4 linked regions of the Homo sapiens genome follow. The protein of the gene in region 1 purifies or fractionates together with the protein of each later gene. This does not show direct contact. Each region holds a gene or a part of one and is shown in the gene's direction. Other genes may lie near its edges.

Evidence for each region.
Region 2: the proteins of CLPTM1 (region 1) and TCTN2 purify together in Homo sapiens (affinity purification with mass spectrometry; one large-scale study listed by BioGRID and IntAct). This does not show direct contact.
Region 3: the proteins of CLPTM1 (region 1) and AP3S1 purify together in Homo sapiens (affinity purification with mass spectrometry; one large-scale study listed by BioGRID and IntAct). This does not show direct contact.
Region 4: the proteins of CLPTM1 (region 1) and LMAN1 purify together in Homo sapiens (affinity purification with mass spectrometry, with the first as the bait; one large-scale study listed by BioGRID). This does not show direct contact.

What each region holds. Positions count from the first base shown.
Region 1 is NC_000019.10:44,971,727-44,976,054, forward strand, and holds part of CLPTM1 (putative lipid scramblase CLPTM1), read left to right. Parts: intron 1-1,360; coding exon 1,361-1,484; intron 1,485-2,712; coding exon 2,713-2,871; intron 2,872-4,328. UniProt on the Homo sapiens protein: Involved in GABAergic but not glutamatergic transmission. Binds and traps GABAA receptors in the endoplasmic reticulum (ER).
Region 2 is NC_000012.12:123,701,794-123,706,014, forward strand, and holds part of TCTN2 (tectonic-2 isoform 1 precursor), read left to right. Parts: intron 1-2,738; coding exon 2,739-2,895; intron 2,896-4,221.
Region 3 is NC_000005.10:115,900,477-115,904,804, forward strand, and holds part of AP3S1 (AP-3 complex subunit sigma-1), read left to right. Parts: intron 1-2,408; coding exon 2,409-2,516; intron 2,517-4,328. UniProt on the Homo sapiens protein: Part of the AP-3 complex, an adaptor-related complex which is not clathrin-associated. The complex is associated with the Golgi region as well as more peripheral structures.
Region 4 is NC_000018.10:59,334,953-59,339,280, reverse strand, and holds part of LMAN1 (protein ERGIC-53 precursor), read left to right. Parts: intron 1-327; coding exon 328-521; intron 522-653; coding exon 654-724; intron 725-4,328. UniProt on the Homo sapiens protein: Mannose-specific lectin. May recognize sugar residues of glycoproteins, glycolipids, or glycosylphosphatidyl inositol anchors and may be involved in the sorting or recycling of proteins, lipids, or both.

The sequences.
Region 1 (4,328 bases):
TTTTATATTTTTTGTAGAGACGGGATTTCATCATGTTGCCCAGGCTGGTCTCAAACTTTTGAGCTCAAGCAATCCGCCTGCCTCAGCTTCCCAAAGTGCTGGGATTACAAGCATGAGCTGCTACACCTGACCCAATTATACTTTTTTTTTTTTTTTTTTTTTTGAGATGGAGTCTCACTCTGTTGCAAGGCTGGAGGGCAGTGGCGCAATCTCGGCTCACTGCAACCTACGCCTCCCGGGTTCAAGTGATTCTCCTGCCTCAGCCTCCCAAGTAGATGGGACTAGAGGCACGCACCACCAGGCCCAGTTAATTTTTGTATTTTTAGTAGAGACAGGGTTTCACCATGTTGGCCACGATGATCTCGATTTCTTGACCTCGTGATTTGCCCACTTCAGCCTCCCAAAGTTACAGGCATGAGCCACTGTGCCTGGCCTCTATACTTCTTAAGTTATTTTAAAATGTGTAATTAAATTACTATTGACTAGAGTTGCCGTGTTTTGCTACCAAATACTAGATCTCATTCATTCTTTTTTTTTTTGAGATGGAGTCTCGCTCTGTTGCCCAGGCTGGAGTGCAGTGGCGCGATCTTGGCTCACTGCAACCTCTGCCTCCTGGGTTCACACCATTCTCCTGCCTCAGCCTCCGGAGTAGCTGGGACTACAGGCGCCCGCCACCATGCCCAGCTAATTTTTTTGTATTTTTTAGTAGAGACAGGGTTTCACCATGTTAGCCAGGATGGTCTCAATCTCCTGACCTCGTGATCCGCCCGCCTTGGCCTCCCAAAGTGCTGGGATTACAGGCATGAGCCGCCGCGCCCGTCCTCGTTCATTCTATTTTTTGTAGCCATTAACCATCCCCGGTTCTGTGCTTTTGAAGCGCTAGGATTCCAGATTCTTTCTTTTAAAAATTTTATGTTTATTATTTTTTCTTTATTTCTTTTTTCTTTTAATTCATCCATCTGCACACTGAAGGGGTTCCAGATTCTTAGTCTCCTCTCGGGGGATCCCAGGGGGCTGGATGGCAGGTTTCCCAGTCTGAGTCAAGAGTCAGCCCCTGCAGCCCTGTGGTCACCAGGAGCTCCTGCAGGATTTAGAGTCAAGGGTCTGCATGCAGACCAGGGCAGTGCCAGCTACCCCCACACACTGGCAAACGGTGGCATCTGGGCTCCCTCCCCAGATGTGGTCTTTAGGGACATCTTATCTCCTTGCCAGCCCTGTGACTACCTTCTCAGGGCCTCCCTGACTTGGTCACTAGCCCCAGGTCAGGCGCCAGCATGTGCTAAGTCAGAAGGAAGTCAGGCGGGTCTATGGCGGAGAGCCAAGGCTTGGGGACTCACCACCTTGCTGCTTCTCTCCTCAGGATCTTCATCATCTGGGCCATCAGCAGTTGGTTCCGCCGAGGGCCGGCCCCTCAGGACCAGGCGGGCCCCGGAGGAGCTCCACGCGTCGCCAGCCGCAACCTGTTCCCCAAAGACACTTTAATGGTAACTGCCGGGTGGTAGGGCAGACTTGGGAGGTGATGGGGTGTGGAGGGGTGGAATGTGGAGGAGTGATGTCAGCAGTCGGGACAGACCAGGTCCTTGCTCACTGGCAGGTCTAGGAAAACAGGTCCAGGGTTGAGGAACTCTGGGCCCATCCCCAACACGTGAGACCTCTGTCACCTGGGTCCATCCCCAGCACATAAAACCTGTGTCACCCAAAAGAAAAAGCAAATTCATTTGGTTAAAATAGGTTAAATCAGGGTCTTTGGATGTTATATTTCAAAAGTATGTTCAGCCTTTCAGGGTTGCAGAGGGAGATGTGCAAGGGAGAGAGTGTGAGAGGTGGGGAGGGCAGGGAGCCAGCAGAGGCTGACAGGAGGTGGGCCCGGAAGGAGAGGAGACCTGCACTTCCACAGTGGGCTTGGGCACAGGCAGGGCAGGGCTTCAGGAGCCTCCAGAGCAAAAGCATTTAGATCTGTCAGTCTAGGCTTTTCTGAGCAAACATGGCCATTGGGGCTTGAGAAAGGAGGAAGTTCTTGTTGGGTCACAGTGGGTTTTTTTTTTTTTTTTTTTTGAGATGGAGTCTCACTCTGTCGCCCAGGCTAGAGTGCAGTGGCATAATCTTAGCTCACTGCAACCTCTGCCTCCCGGGCTCCAGTGATCCTCCTGCCTCAGCCTCACGACTAGCTGGGATTACAGGCATGTGCCACCACGTCCAGCTAATTTTTTGTATTTTTAGTAGAGATGGGGTTTTACCTTTTTGGTACGCTGGTCTCGAACTCCTGACCTCAAGTGGTCTACCCGCCTTGGCCTCCCAACGTGCTGGGATCACAGGCATGAGCCACCGTGCCCGGTGGCTCACAGTGCTTTTGTAGCTCTGGACTGCTTCGTCCATAAGCCTGCAGAGCTCTGACCAGGAAGGCCCAGCAGCCATGAGGGCAGGAGATCATTCAGGGAGCTCCTGCCCCTTCCTACCCCTAAATTCTAATTGGCAGGCTGGCCAGTCTCCAAGTGTTCTTTGTTCGTTGACTTCACAGGCTCAGACCAGGACAAACATGGTGGTATGAGAAAAGAGAAAATATGTCCTCTCTGCTGCTCTTCCTCTCTCCTCTCCCCTGTCCTCCATAATTACTGTTCCCCTGAGTGTGCTGACCGCTGCCATAGCTCTTTAGCCAGCCTGCAGAGGCTCTGAAGAGCAGGCCTGAGCTCTGTTCCCTTCCTGTCCCAACAGAACCTGCATGTGTACATCTCAGAGCACGAGCACTTTACAGACTTCAACGCCACGTCGGCACTCTTCTGGGAACAGCACGATCTTGTGTATGGCGACTGGACTAGCGGCGAGAACTCAGACGGCTGCTACGAGCACTTTGCTGAGCTCGATATCCCACAGGTGGGGGCAGCTCTCGGTTTCTGGCCCCATGGCTGCTTGACTGGCACTGAAGGACCTTTTCCTCCAGTCCGCTCCTTGCTGAGAGCATGTGGAGTTTGGGCTCCAGGCTTGGCCCTTCCCTGGGCTCACATGGTCTGTGACCACAAGCCAGTCCCTGAGATCTCTGGGCTTCACTTTCCCCTACCTGAAAAAGGTAGATAGGGGTGGAATTGGCCTGGGACCCTCCCAGCTACCTCTAAGGTTGTGCAGTCCTCCACTTTAAACTGGTGAAAGATTAGTAATTGTCCTTGGGGATGTTTGCCTATCACCAGTTTATCAGGCAGCCCCGTTTCAAAATAATATTAGTTAATGTTGATTGAGCTAAGTGCAGGGTACTAAGCTAGGCTGACTCATGGAAATTTCCCGGCAACCCTGTGAAGCAGGAACTGTTATTATTCTCATTTAACATGTGAGGAAACTGAGAGAGAAGGAAAGTGATTTACCCAAGGCCACATCGCATGAGAGATTCAGACTCAGGCTCTACGGCTGTGGACTCTCGCAGCCCTAGGCTCAAATCCAACCTCCTCCAGGAAGCCCTCCCTGACTCACAGAGCACTCAGGCTTGGTTAAGCACCCTCTCTGGGTTCTCACACCTGCTGGGCTTCCCCATCCCAGCCCATTCTGGGGCCTCATTGGGACTCCTGTATGGGACTGTGAGCCTTGTGATAATAAGGCTGGGGCTGCCTAGATCACTTCCATGTCCCCAGCACTGCCCAACGTGGGGCTGGGTGCAGAATCAGCAAGTATTGAACAAGTAAAAGGGACATCTCTCTTTGGGGCCTTCTTCGGCTGAGTCCAAGACAGCTGCCCTCATTCCTTTCTCCCCAGCAGGCCTTCTCAGCTTTGGGGTGGAGGGCACATTTCTGTTCTATTTCTGTCTGGGTAGCTAGAAGCAGAATGTGGACACAGTCATTCTGGTTTTTTTTTTTGTTTTTTGTTTTTTTTTGAGACAGCGTCTCGCTCTGTCACCCAGTCTGGAGGGCAGTGGCGCAACCTTGGCTCACTGCAACTTCACCTCCCAGGTTCAAGCGATTCTCATGTGCCAGCCTCCTGAGTAGCTGGGACTAAGGCACACATGATCACACCCAGCTAATTTTTTTATTTTTTAGTAGAGACAAGGTTTCACTATGTTGGCCAGGTTGGCCTTGAACTCCTGACCTCAAGTGATCCACCTACCTTGGTCTCCCAAAGTGCTGGGATTACAGGCGTGAGACACCGCGTCCAGCCATCATTCTTTTCTTTTTGAGATGGGGTCTTGCTCTGTTGCCTAGGCTGAAGTGCAGTGGTGCAATTACAGCTCACTGCAGCCTCAACCTCCTGGGCTCAAGCAATCTTTTCACCTCAGCCTCCCAAGTAGCTGGGACAACAGGCATGCACCACCATGCCCAGCTAATTTTTTGTAGAGATGGGGTCTCAAC
Region 2 (4,221 bases), on another chromosome or scaffold:
GGCCAGATAGAAAGACTTGACAGCTCAGTGCCTCTGGCCAAAGGTATTTGCAGTGTTGAATTGGCAAGTAGCTCGTACACAAAGGGAAAAAGATATACCACATGTACATGGAATAAAGGTAAACCAGACTTTAAAGCTTCTTCATCAGGCCTGATTTCACCTCTGAATCCAAAATATCCTTTGAGTCATGGAGATCCAGCTCATCGGGTTATGTTGGAGAGGCCTAAGGTCACAGTGAGTTTTGGCAGAGCTAGAATGAAAACCTGGGGTTCCAACCTCTTTCCTCTGTTCCCTGGTAGCAAGTTAGGTAACTTCCCGGTTTCTTGGGGAGCCTTGAGTCTGTAAATACTTTGAATGGAAAGCTTTTTTTATTGAGCTAATTAATGGAATTGCCTTTTGGGACCAGAAAGAGCCCAATGAGTGTGCGCATCTGCTTTGCCCCTGCCCAGCTCTCCCTGCAGATGCTGCTCTGCCCCTCTCCTCTGCCTGGTGGGTAGGGATCAGCCCTCTGGATCCTGTCCCTACCCTTTCCATCTCCTCTGAGGTCAGCTAGGCTCAGTAGGCTGGAATTCACACAACGGCCCATACAGACACACACCTGTATTGTGCCTACTCCTTGTGATTGGGGTCATGGTGATGAGGACCCTCCCTTCCCCCTCTTGGTCATGGATAATGTGATATGTCTGTGAGCTTGAGGTGCCCCAGACCACTCTCTGACTTGGGGAGGGAGTCCTGTTGGACTCCACCCCCACGGGGCACTCAGGCTGCTGTTTGCTCATCTAGCTGGTGCTCAAGGCACTGGGCCCAGACCTAGATCCTCATTTGCAAACGGAACCCAGAGGTCGAGCTTGTCAAGCCCTGGGCTCTGCCACCCAGGCCAGCTAGATAGGCTGTGGAATGACCCTGAGGGCTGGAGAAAAGTCAGCAGTTGGGAAATAAACGGTAGGGAAAATGTCCAGACGGAGAACCCAGGTTGATGAGGTACGAAATCAGTGTGGTGATGACATTTTGTTGCCTTCAAGGTGGAAGGGGTTAGCTTTTATTTCATGTCTGAGCCAAAAAGCAACCTTGATCCTGGTTAATAAGCAGAAGAGAAGTGGTGTTGACACATGTATAAGGAAATTAGACATAAAACAGTGTTACTGACCTTCGGAATCCCTGAAGGAGCAAAGAACCCCCTTCAGAGGAGCCATAGAACCTACCCTACTTCCTCCAATTGACCTTGCTGGGTTTTCTCCAAGACGAATGCAAATTCATTTCTCATTCAATTTCATTCTCTTCCAATTGTATTAATACTATGGTAACACATTAGGAAATTACTTACCTATCTAATACATACTAATTAAAGTCGTTAGTGTGGATTTTGTTTTATTATTATTTTTTTTTCAATTATTATCATTATTTTTTTTTTGAGATGGAGTCTCACTTTGTTGCTGGAGTGCAGTGGCATGATCTCGGCTCACTGCAACCTCCACCTCCCAGGTTTCAAGTGATTCTCCTGCCTCAGCCTCCCAAGTAGCTGGGATTACAGGTGTGCGCCACCATACCTGGCCAATTTTTGTATTTTTAGTAGAGACAGGGTTTCACCATGTTGGCCAGGCTGGTCTCGAACTCCTGACCTCAGGTCATCCACCCACCTCAGCCTCCCAAAGTGTTGGGATTACAGGCGTGAGCCACCACGCCCGACTGATTTTTATTTTTATTTTTTGAGATGAGGTTCTCACTTTTGTCCAGGCTGGAATGTAGTGGTGCCATGCCATCACGGCTTACTGCAGCCTTGACTTCCCAGGCTGAAGCAATCCTCTCACCTCAGCCTTCTGGGTAGCTGGTGTGTGCTACAGGTGTGTGCCACCATGACTGGCTATTTTATTTTTCTCGAGGAGACAGGGTTTTGCTATGTTGCCCAGGCTGGTCTCAAACTCCTGGGCTCAAGCAGTGCTTCTACCTTGACCTCCCAAAGTGCTAGGATTATAGGCATGAGCCACTGTGCCTGGCCTAAAGTTGTTAGTATGGATTTTAAATGTCTTACACAGCTTTTACTAGAACTGTGACTGCATGGAATAACGATGGCATTTCACTGCAATTATATATGTTTCTGTTAAAAGGCTGGGTAGATTTCAGTGGGAGCTTGGAAACTGAATCATGATTTATGGCTTTAATATGTGGGTCAGGGCTTTTAAGTTCCAGTGACTGGCTAACATACAAGGAAACTTTTTTTTTTTTTTTTTTTTTGAGACAGAGTCTCCCTCTGTCGCCAGGCTGCAGTGCAGTGGTGTGATCTTGGCTCACGGCAAGCTCCGCCTCCCAGGTTCACGCCATTCTCCTGCCTCAGCCTCCCAAGTAACTGGGACTACAGGCGAGCACCACCACGCCCAGCTAATTTTTATACTTTTAGTAGAGATGGGGTTTCACCATGTTGGCCAGAATGGTCTCGATCTCTTGACCTCGTGATCTGCCCGCCTCAGCCTCCCAAAGTGCTGGGATTACGGCGTTAGCCACCGCACCCGGCCCATACAAGGAAACATTTTAAACACAATTTTTATTAGTGCCATCCTATGCCTTGTAGACTTTAAGGGATAACACAGTTATGGAGTGACAAGTAACTAGAGCCTGTAAGAGACTAAAGCCTCATTAATGTGATGCCTGCCTGATATTATTCCCCATTTTGGTTATTACGACATTGTAGGAAAACTTATCAAATTATTCTTTGAAAAGTGTATAACTTAACATTTCTATAGGTGTAGATGCCCCTGATCCAGGTGCAGACCCGCTGGCTAGCAGTGTGAACGGCATGTGCCTGGATATTCCTGCTCACCTGAGCATCCGCATCCTCATCTCGGATGCTGGCGCGGTGGAAGGGATTACTCAGCAGGAGATACTCGGTGTAGAGACAAGGTATGATCACATCTTGGATCACCGTAGTTTAGAGAGAGTCAGGAAAGTTGAGAGCATCCCAAACAATAGGGAAATGTTTATTTAGAAACTGATTGTTTATTTACAACTTGCAATTATTAGCAAGATGTTTATATGCACATATGGAATATGTACGAACTATGTGTATAATGGAGACTTATTCTCACAAGTATTTATAAAGCCATATGTAAGAGAGTCTGCAAGTTATTTTAGGGAGTACAAAGATGAATAAAGGGCCCCTTAGTACTAAGTATATTTTGAAATCCATGGATGTAACTGATAATCTGATCAGAGAATATTGTCTGTGGTTAGAGACTTTGGCAGCAGATAGGTTCAAATCATGGCTGTCCTACTTAGGAGCTGTGTGACACTGGCCAATTACTTAACCTTTCTGAGCTGTAGTTTCCTCCTCTGTAATATGGTGATAATACCTTTATGTATCAAGCCTCCATCAGTTTTTTTTTTTTTTTTTTTTGAGACAGAGTCTTGCTCCGTCTCCAGGCTGGAGTGCAGTGGCAATATCTTGACTCACTGCAACCTCCAACTCTCTAGTTCAAGCGATTCTCCTGCTTCAGCCTCCCGAGTAGCTGGGATTACAGGCACGTGCCACCATGTCCAGCTAATTTTTGTATTTTTAGTAAAGACAGGGTTTCACCCTGTTGGCCAGGATGGTCTCAATCTCCTGACCTCATGATCCGCCCGCCTCGGCCTCCCAAAGTGCTGGGATTACAGGCATGAGCCACCGCGCCCAGCCTGCCTCCATCGGTTTTAAGTGACAGGCGCCCAGTTCATACTGACTTAAGCAAAAAGGGGAGTTTATTGGTTCAAGTTCAGAGTAATCCACATACAGCTAGTTCATGGTTCATGGTTCCAGTGTGGTCAGGGATCTTTTTGTTTTCGTATCTCAGCTCCTCTTCCTTTGGGTTGGCTTCATTCTCAGGGAGGTTCTCCTCAAGAGATGGCAAAGATCAGCACCAGCAATCCAGGCTTATGTCACTGCAGCAAGTCCAGTGGGGAGAAAGCCCCTTTCCTCCTCTTTCCTTTCTTTCTTTCTTTTTTTTTTTTTTGAGACGGAGTTTTGCTCTTGTTGCCCAGGCTGGAGTGCAGTGGTGCCATCTTGGCTCACTGCAACCTCCACCAACCGGGTTCAAGCGATTCTCCTGCCTCAGCCTCCTAAGTAGCTGAGGTTACAAGCATGTGGCACCTCGCCTGGCTAATTTTGTATTTTTAGTAGAGATGGGGTTTCTCCATGTTGGTCAGGCTGGTCTTGAACTCCCAACCTGAGGTGATCTGCCTGCCTCAGCCTCC
Region 3 (4,328 bases), on another chromosome or scaffold:
TCATTTTATTCATTTCCTGTTCCAGACATGTTGTCAACCATTCTTTTCTAGGAGCCCTGATTCCTTTTTGTTGGCGATGGTATATAGTAACTACAGTCTAGAGGTGCTCATGATTATGAAGTTGCTCATTGTTTTATGGCCTTTTCAATGAACAGAGCATCTTACGTATTTTCTGCTCCAGCCCTCAAGTCAGCCATTTCTCCAAGGAACCCTGGCTTCCTTCAGTAGAGAATGATGTTTAGAAATGACGATTTGGGCACTGTGTTTGCTCATTGTTACTGGGGTGACATGACTCCTGGTTCTTAGTGAACTGAGCTGGGAAATAGATGTATGTATACACGCACAGCTGTTTCTGGATCTTGATATGATATTAAAAATCATTGACCACTTCTTAATACCTCAGAATCTAGTACAATACTACAGAATTTCTTCTGGCTTTCTCGTTTTCCATATTTGCAGCTTGCTTCTCTGACAGAGATCAGTGAGAGATCTCATTATAAAAATATGTGTCTAATAATTAATGTTGATTCACTGTTTTAAATTTTTATATTTTTGTTTGTTTGCTCTTACCAACACAGTTTCATTTATCACTGTCATATGTATATCAGGCACCAGTCTCTTTTATGGTTTTCCTAACTTAATTTCTCATTCTTTCCTTCCTCTAACTTTCAATTCTTTATTTTCTTGCAGAACTGCGAAAATTAATGTATATAATATGTTCTCATTTGTGTAAATTAGATATGCATATACACACGTATAACAAGTATGTGCACAGCAAGTTTTCTAGGATACCTAAGATATAGCTAGCTGAGTAGCTTTGGATAAAGGGACCTAAAAACGGATGCAGAGTGTGGTAGAGACTATTGTTGTTCATACATAAGTTTCTGTATGAACTTTTAGTCATTTGCCTATATTCTTTTTTTTTTTTTTTTTTTTTAAGTTACGGTAGTTTTCAAAACACTGTCATGTCTGGTTTGGTTTGGTTGGCTAGGAAGATTAATTTATATAAATTTGTCTTCAGAATTTGTGCATGAGGTGTCCATGCTTCCAAAATGAAAAATAGTAAATAATGATGACTTTTTTTTTTTTTTTAATTGAGGCAGGGTCTCACTCTGTTGCCCATGCTAGAGTGCAGTAGTGTGATTTCAGCTCACTGCACCCTCCACTTCCCGGGCTCAGGCAGTCCTCCTGGGTCAGCCTCCCGAGTAGCTGGAAGTACAGACGTGAGGCACTATGCCTGGCTAATTGTCTGCATTTTTTGTAAAGGCAGGGTTTTGCCATATTGCCAGTGATCTGTCCACCTTGTCCTCCCAAAGTGTTGGGATTACAGGTGTGAGCCACCATACCCAGCCTCCAGGGATATTTTTTAAATTATGAATAAATTTGCGTGAAATCTTACAAAGAAATTTAAATTGAGTAATACATATTTAACTCCTAAAAAGAGTTTGTTGAAAAAAAAATTACCGTATAATACCTAGTGGTTCTATGCTAAGCACTTACATAAATTATTTATTTAATTGTTATGGTAATCCTATGAGGTGCCTATATTATTTCTGTCTCTATTTCGTAAATAAGGTAACAGACTCAGAGAGCTGAAGTAACTGCTCAAGGGCTACAAGTAATAAGTGGTAGAGTCTGTATTCATACTTATCTAATTTTGGAGTCTCCATTTCTAACCTTACCACATTATTTTAAAAAAATTATAGCAGAATAGATTCTTCTGTGAAATGTAATTCAGTTCTGAATTGTTGATTTTTTGATCCAATAATACCTTATGAAAAGACAGAAGTTATATTTTTACTCCCCAATGGAAGACATCATTTTTAGTCATTGTAAGATGTATTTATTAGAAGAAATCTGAATATTACATGTGTAGAGGATTTGGGGGTAAAAACACTATTAAAGTACCCACAATTTAAAAAATTCTACCTTTTTCCAATCTAGAGCCTGTTAGAAGTACTGTACTACATTGCTTCATTAAGTACCATGAGTGTAAAATAATAACCTAATTATTGTTGGCTAAGAATCTGGCATAAAAGGCTCTTATAAATCATATTTTAGTATTAAACTTCACATAATAATAATAATAATGGTAGTTAATATTTACTAGTCATTTACTTTGTTTTGAGTACTGCATTGGATTACCTTGCTTATTCCTTTCAACAGTCCTATGAAGGTAGTACTATTGTTTTTGTTTTATAGCCCATTAAGCTCAGACTTAAGGAGGTTATATAACTGCCTAGGGCTTCACAGTAGTGATGAAAGTGGATTATGAGCCCTTACTCCAAGTTGTTTTTACCACTCATACTTTTAACATAGACAAAGTGGTATTTGAAACAAAAAGTGAATCATGAAACTTCTTTTTAGTGAATTTTCTTTATGGGTATATATTCTTTTATTCCCTTTAGGTTCACAATATTCTTGCAGAAATGGTGATGGGGGGAATGGTATTGGAGACAAATATGAATGAGATTGTTACACAAATTGATGCACAAAATAAGCTGGAAAAATCTGAGGTAAGAATGGAAAATGCTGTAGTTAAGAAGGTTCTAAGCATGATGACAGATTACGCATGATTTGTAGTTTTCACTGTTTGTCCTTCAGTATCACCCTTTAGGTTCAGCCGTTATGCTTATTCAGTTTTTAAAAAATGGAATATACACGTAGTATGCTAAAGGTTCTGTGACTGTTCTCTACCCAACAGCTTTGTGTATTCTTCTTTTAGCCACAGTCATAGCTGCCTTGGGTAATAAGCACAATTCCAAATCTTATTGCCTAAAAGAATTATCTGAATAATGGAATCTAATATTTGCTTTGTAAAACTTCAGTCGGTAATTATCAAGGAAATCTTAGAACTAATATTTTAAAGATATATAAATTTTGTGTTACAAAACTACTTCTGGAAAGGGAAAGGACAGGAAATGGAATTCTTACAGGGAAGTAAGTAATGTTTCAAGTTATTAATAAATGCAAAATAAATATTTTGAATGTTTGAGTTCACATTCAAAAAAGAAATTCAATACCTTAATCTTTTAATTCTAAATCTTTCCCTAAGATTTCACTGACAAGTTAGTTAAGTCACATATTTTAGACATTAGTACATATATATCCATGGTCTTTATTGCATTCTATAAGATCGGTTTGTTATACTTAGCTAACTTTCTGCTGTTAGATTCAACCTTAGATGGGATAAATGAGGAACAGCCAGCACTTTAGCATTGTATAAAACCCTACTTCAGAATTGTAGTGACTCTTCCCTCAAGCACTAGTCTGAATATCAGTAGCAGGTGCTGTAGCTGAGCCACCTGGGTTCACATTATTTTGGTTGTTTATTACCCTAGCAGAGGTTTAGAAAGATCAGTAGTTTTATCATTTGAGTTCAGGAGTTCGAGACTAGCCTGGCCAACATGGTGAAACCCCATCTCTACTAAAAAAATAAAAATAAAAAATAAATAAATTAGCTGGGCACGTAGAGCGCACCTGTAATCCCAGCTACTCGGGAGGCTGAGGCACAAGAATCACTTGAACCCCGGAGGTGGAGGTTGCAGTGAGCCGAGATCACATCACTGCACTCCTGGGCAACAGAGTAAAACTTCATCTCAAAAAAAAAAAGAAAGATCAATAATTTTGATATCTCATTCACCACCCAACTTGTTTGAGGATACTCTTACATTTGGTATTTGCAGTCATAACTCAGATTGGAAAAAACAGACTTTATTTTTATAATTATTAGTGTTAAGCTCAGATGTTTCGTTGATTTAAAGTAAATATTACTTTGAAAGCATCAAGGTTTTAAAAATACACTGGCATTAATTTACAACAGGTGAGTTCTGAAAAATTTTACCTTGTTGGCATTTTAAAGGATCAGTTTAACTCAATTCAATTCTGTGTCCATTTTAATTGAAGAAAACACAGGGTGAAGAATAAATCTCAAATCTAGAAACAGTTGAAGCTTATAAAACATTTTCCAGTGTTCTCTTTTAAATTTAAAATAGTCTTGCATTTTTCTTTATCTCAATTTCCCATTCCTGTTGGTTTCCCAAAGGAGAAGTTTATAGTGGTGATTTAGAGCTAAGATTATCTTAACTAACTATATGTTTTGTTTGTCCTATAGCCAATTTTTAAAATATTGGCTTTTGAAAGTGGAAAACATAAATTAGGTTAATAGAGAAAATTTTGTTTTAGGACAAGGAAAAAGACTCATAATTTAATTTAGTATAACTGACTTGCAATATATTATTTAGTAAAGAAAAGATTATTATAAACCCTGAGCTATTGCTTTTAAAGTCTTAAAAGAACTTAAAATGTGTGTCATTTGTTAAACATTG
Region 4 (4,328 bases), on another chromosome or scaffold:
TCTGGTTTTTCTCCGTGGAGGAGGTACATACTACTTGCATCTGGTTAGCCATTTTGATCCCTCCTGAGATTATCCAAGAAAAATTGTTTTTAAATAAAAAAATTTAAACCCAGTTTATAATAAGTGTTCAATCACCTGAAATGGCAGAAAACAAATAATTTAATCATTATTGAATTAATTATTTGCATATTTTCTGTTTGGGAGATTGTACCACTGTGATGGTGATGTCCTAATTTTGCTGAATGTTGGCACTTTGGTCACTTACGTTATTTCAAAAACTACATATGTGTAGGTGACTCTGATCATTTTTATTTATTTCCTTTTCAGCGGAGGAAATATTTGAGAGTGTAGGAGATCGAGAGCTAAGACAAGTCTTTGAAGGACAGAATCGTATTCATCTTGAAATCAAGCAGCTGAACCGGCAGTTAGATATGATTCTTGATGAACAGAGAAGATATGTCTCTTCCTTAACAGAGGAAATCTCTAAAAGAGGAGCAGGAATGCCTGGGCAGCATGGGCAGGTGGGCTTGCAGAATATGCAGATGTGCCCCATTTACCCTTTGCTGGAAGGGAAGTAAAGAAGAAGGGCAACTGTACTATGTGCTCATAGAATGTGGATTATTCAGCTTGCTCGTCATTGTTTCTTCCTCCAGATTACTCAACAAGAACTGGATACTGTTGTGAAAACTCAGCATGAGATTCTGAGACAAGTAAATGAAATGAAGTAAGTATGGAAAAGTAGCGTTTGTGTGTTATGTGATTTTTTTTATCCTAAATTTGTGACTTCAGGTGTGCAAGCACTGTATTGCAAGATTTCTGCATGAGGGTAAGAATCCCGTTCTAGATTCATTTTACAAATAGGGGACCATAAATACAGCAACTTTTAATATTCAAAAACTGCAAACATGTCTAAAGTTTTTAATTGTTTAGAGCTGGAAAAGAAAAAATGTTTTGGCATCTTTTAAAGAGATTTGTCAGTTACTTGACAGAGCCAGGTGTGTTCTTATATTTATAAAATATAAAAAGAATATGAAATAATATATAACACTTTTATGAAAAGTACTAGAGGAATAAATATGTGTAGCATTGTAAGACTATAATACAAGCAGACCTGATGCAGGAAATTCTTTTTGATGGAATGAAACCATTTTGAACGTAATATGTGTGACTACCTCTTTTTCATTCCCATCTTTTACTCTCAGAGAGACTGGACAGAGTTGGAGCAGAGAGGAGATAATTGTGTCCTTAGAATGTTGAACAATAAATTTCTAATGAGAATGATTGACTTATGCAGATAATTAATAGCTTTCAATGCCTGGAGCAGAGATAACAAACCATAGTGTCATGTTTCCATAACCTAACATTTCAGAGCACTGTCCCAACCGATAGAACCCTTGACAAACAAGAATGTCAAGGTGAGTTCTTTAGGACTGGAGAATTAAACAAGGTTAGATCAAACAGAAGGTGATTATACCTGATGTCTAGAGATTAAAGGCACTTAACTTATAACTGCAAATTTATATTTCTTCAATTTTTCTCTTTGCATTTTAAAAAATCTTCATAATCTGAACTCATGATTGAAATATTTATGATGCTAGATGAATAGTTTAGCTCTTCAAATAGTTTAGTTAAATGAATAGAATCCTTTTAGAAATAGACTGGATCATGTAACGCAACCTTTTTAAAAATCTTTTTATTTCGATCTAATTTTAGACCTCAGAAGCTACAGAAATAGTATGGGAAGTTTCTATACATTCTTCACCCATCTTTCTCTAATTTATATAACCATGGTTTAATTGTCAGAACCAGGAAATTAACATTGATACAATTCAATCAACTAAATTAATGACCTATTCAAAATTTATCAGTTTCTCCACCAAGGCCTATTCTATTCCAGGATCCCATCCACAATCGCACATTACATTTAGTTATTTTTTCTCTTTAGCCTTCTGCAGTCTGCAGTAGTTCATCTTCCCTTGTCTTTCATGACCTTGACATTTTCCAAGAGCATTAATCAGTTAATACCTTTTGATTTGGGTTTGGTTGGATGGAAGTTCCACATTTTGATAAGAAGATATTATATATTATAATATGTTATATAATATAATTATATATATTATTATATAAGATTGGTAAGATATTACTGATGATGTTGGCTGTGATCACTCGGTTATGGTGGTTTCCTATTGCTATCTCTACTTTAAAGTTACTGTATTTCCCTTTGTGGTTAGTATTTTGGAGAAGGTACTTTGAGACTATGTAAGTATCCATTTCAACCTTCTGCTCATTCATTTTAGCATCCATTGATGTTTCTTGCCTGTAACAAGAAAGTGGTTTTTGCCAAATGCTGATTTTTTTTTAATTTTTATTTTTATGTATTTATTTATTTATTTTTTTGAGACAGGGTCTAGCTCTGTTGCCCAGGCTGGAGTGCAGTAGTGCAATCACAGCTCTCTGCAGCCTCAACCTCCTGGGCTCAAATGATCCTCCCATCTCAGCCTCCTGAGTAGCTGGGACTACAGGTACATGCCACCACACCCAGCTAATTTTTCTATTTTTTTTGGAGTTGGGATTTTGCCATGTTGCCCAGGCTGATCTCAAACTCCTGGGCTCAAGCAGTCCTCCTGCCTCTGCCTCCCATAGTGTTGGGATTACAGGCGTGAGCCACCACGCCTGGCCCCGATGTTTATATTTCGAAATAATTCCCTCCATATTTGTTCATTGGAATTCTGCTGTCAGGACCAACTATCTTTTCTCTCCCATTTATTTATTTAGTTATTTATTTAGATCAGTTCAGACTCATGGATACTTATTCCATAGGTTACAGTCCAACACTCTCCTTATTTATTTTGCTGCTCAAATTGTTTCAGGTATGGTCATTCTGAGCTCCTTCATGTTGGCATCTTTGTTCTCTCAACAAGCCCTCATCTTTTTTTGAGCATTTTAAAAATTTATGGTACTGCTCTATCTTCTAGGGTCATCTTGTATTTTCTCTGCCCTCAGTGAGCCCTGGTTCCTTTTTCTTGAGAAAGGTATTTGAAAACCAACCTTTGGGCACTAGGTATGCTCATTACTACCGCGGTGCCGTTACCTCTAGGCCTCTTACTGGACAGAGCTAGGGAATATACATATGTATACCAACCCATGCATGTACATGAGTCTGTAGTTCCGTGTCTGTCAACCTACTCTTGTGTTAAACCATGAGATTATGCAGATATTTTGGATTCTGGCTGGACTGAACACTACAGAGTTAATTTTTAACTTTCCCCCTTGTCTTATTTGAAAATTCTTCCTCCAACAGGGAAAAACCTGGTTCTTATTATCTGTATCTATAACATATTTACTTATTGGTTTCACTTGAGTATGCATATAAGTACACACAAAGTGGTTTCAAATTGTTAGCTCGTATCCCTGTGAGAAAGACATTTACTGACAAGTTTATGTAAAGTTCCTTTTATCTCTAGCTTTACAGTATCCAGCCCAGATACTCTTTTCCAGATAGTTTCTTAGTGTAGTTCTCTTTTTCCCTACTCTTTTCATTATGGCTGATATTACTCATTTAGGATCCAGCTAGATTCTTTGTTAATGTTTATATTCCTCCTATATCCTGGTTGATTTAAATTGTTTGTATTTTGGGTATATGAATACTATGGTTCTAAGGGGCAGAGCATGTGTATATCGCTTCTTCATCCTTGCTACCACTTTCCCATCCTCCCCTTCTTTCCAGCTGTTTCCCACCCATTCCCTCTTGGTAACCAATTCTGTTAGCTTCCGGTTTGTTCTTCCTGTATTTCTTCTGCATATACGTATTTTCTTTTTCTTTTCTTTCTTTTTTTTTTTTTCTTTTGAGATGGAGTTTTGCTCTTGTTGCCTAGGCTGGAGTACACTGGTGCAATCTTGGCTCACCGCAACCTCTGCCTCCTGGGTTCATGCGATTCTTCTGCCTCAGCCTCCCGCCTAGCTGGGATTACAGGCACCTGACACCATGCCTGGCTACTTTTGTATTTTTAGTAGAGATGGGGTTTCTCCATGTTGGCCAGGCTGGTCTCGAACTCCTGACCTCAGGTGATCCACGCGCCTTGGCCTCCTAATGTGCTGGGATTACAGGTGTTAGCCACTGCACCCAGCCCATATTTTCTGAAGTCCCTTTCTTTCTTATGTGACGGGTAGCATATTCTAGATACTCTTTTGTGCTTTGCATGTTTTACTTAACAGTAGTACTAGGACATCTAAAGATGTAACTAGTTGTCAGGACGTCCTAGCTGTCCAGTTGTATTATCCATAGAATCCCTTTCTTAGAGGAGTTAACAATCCTTGCAAACTCCCAC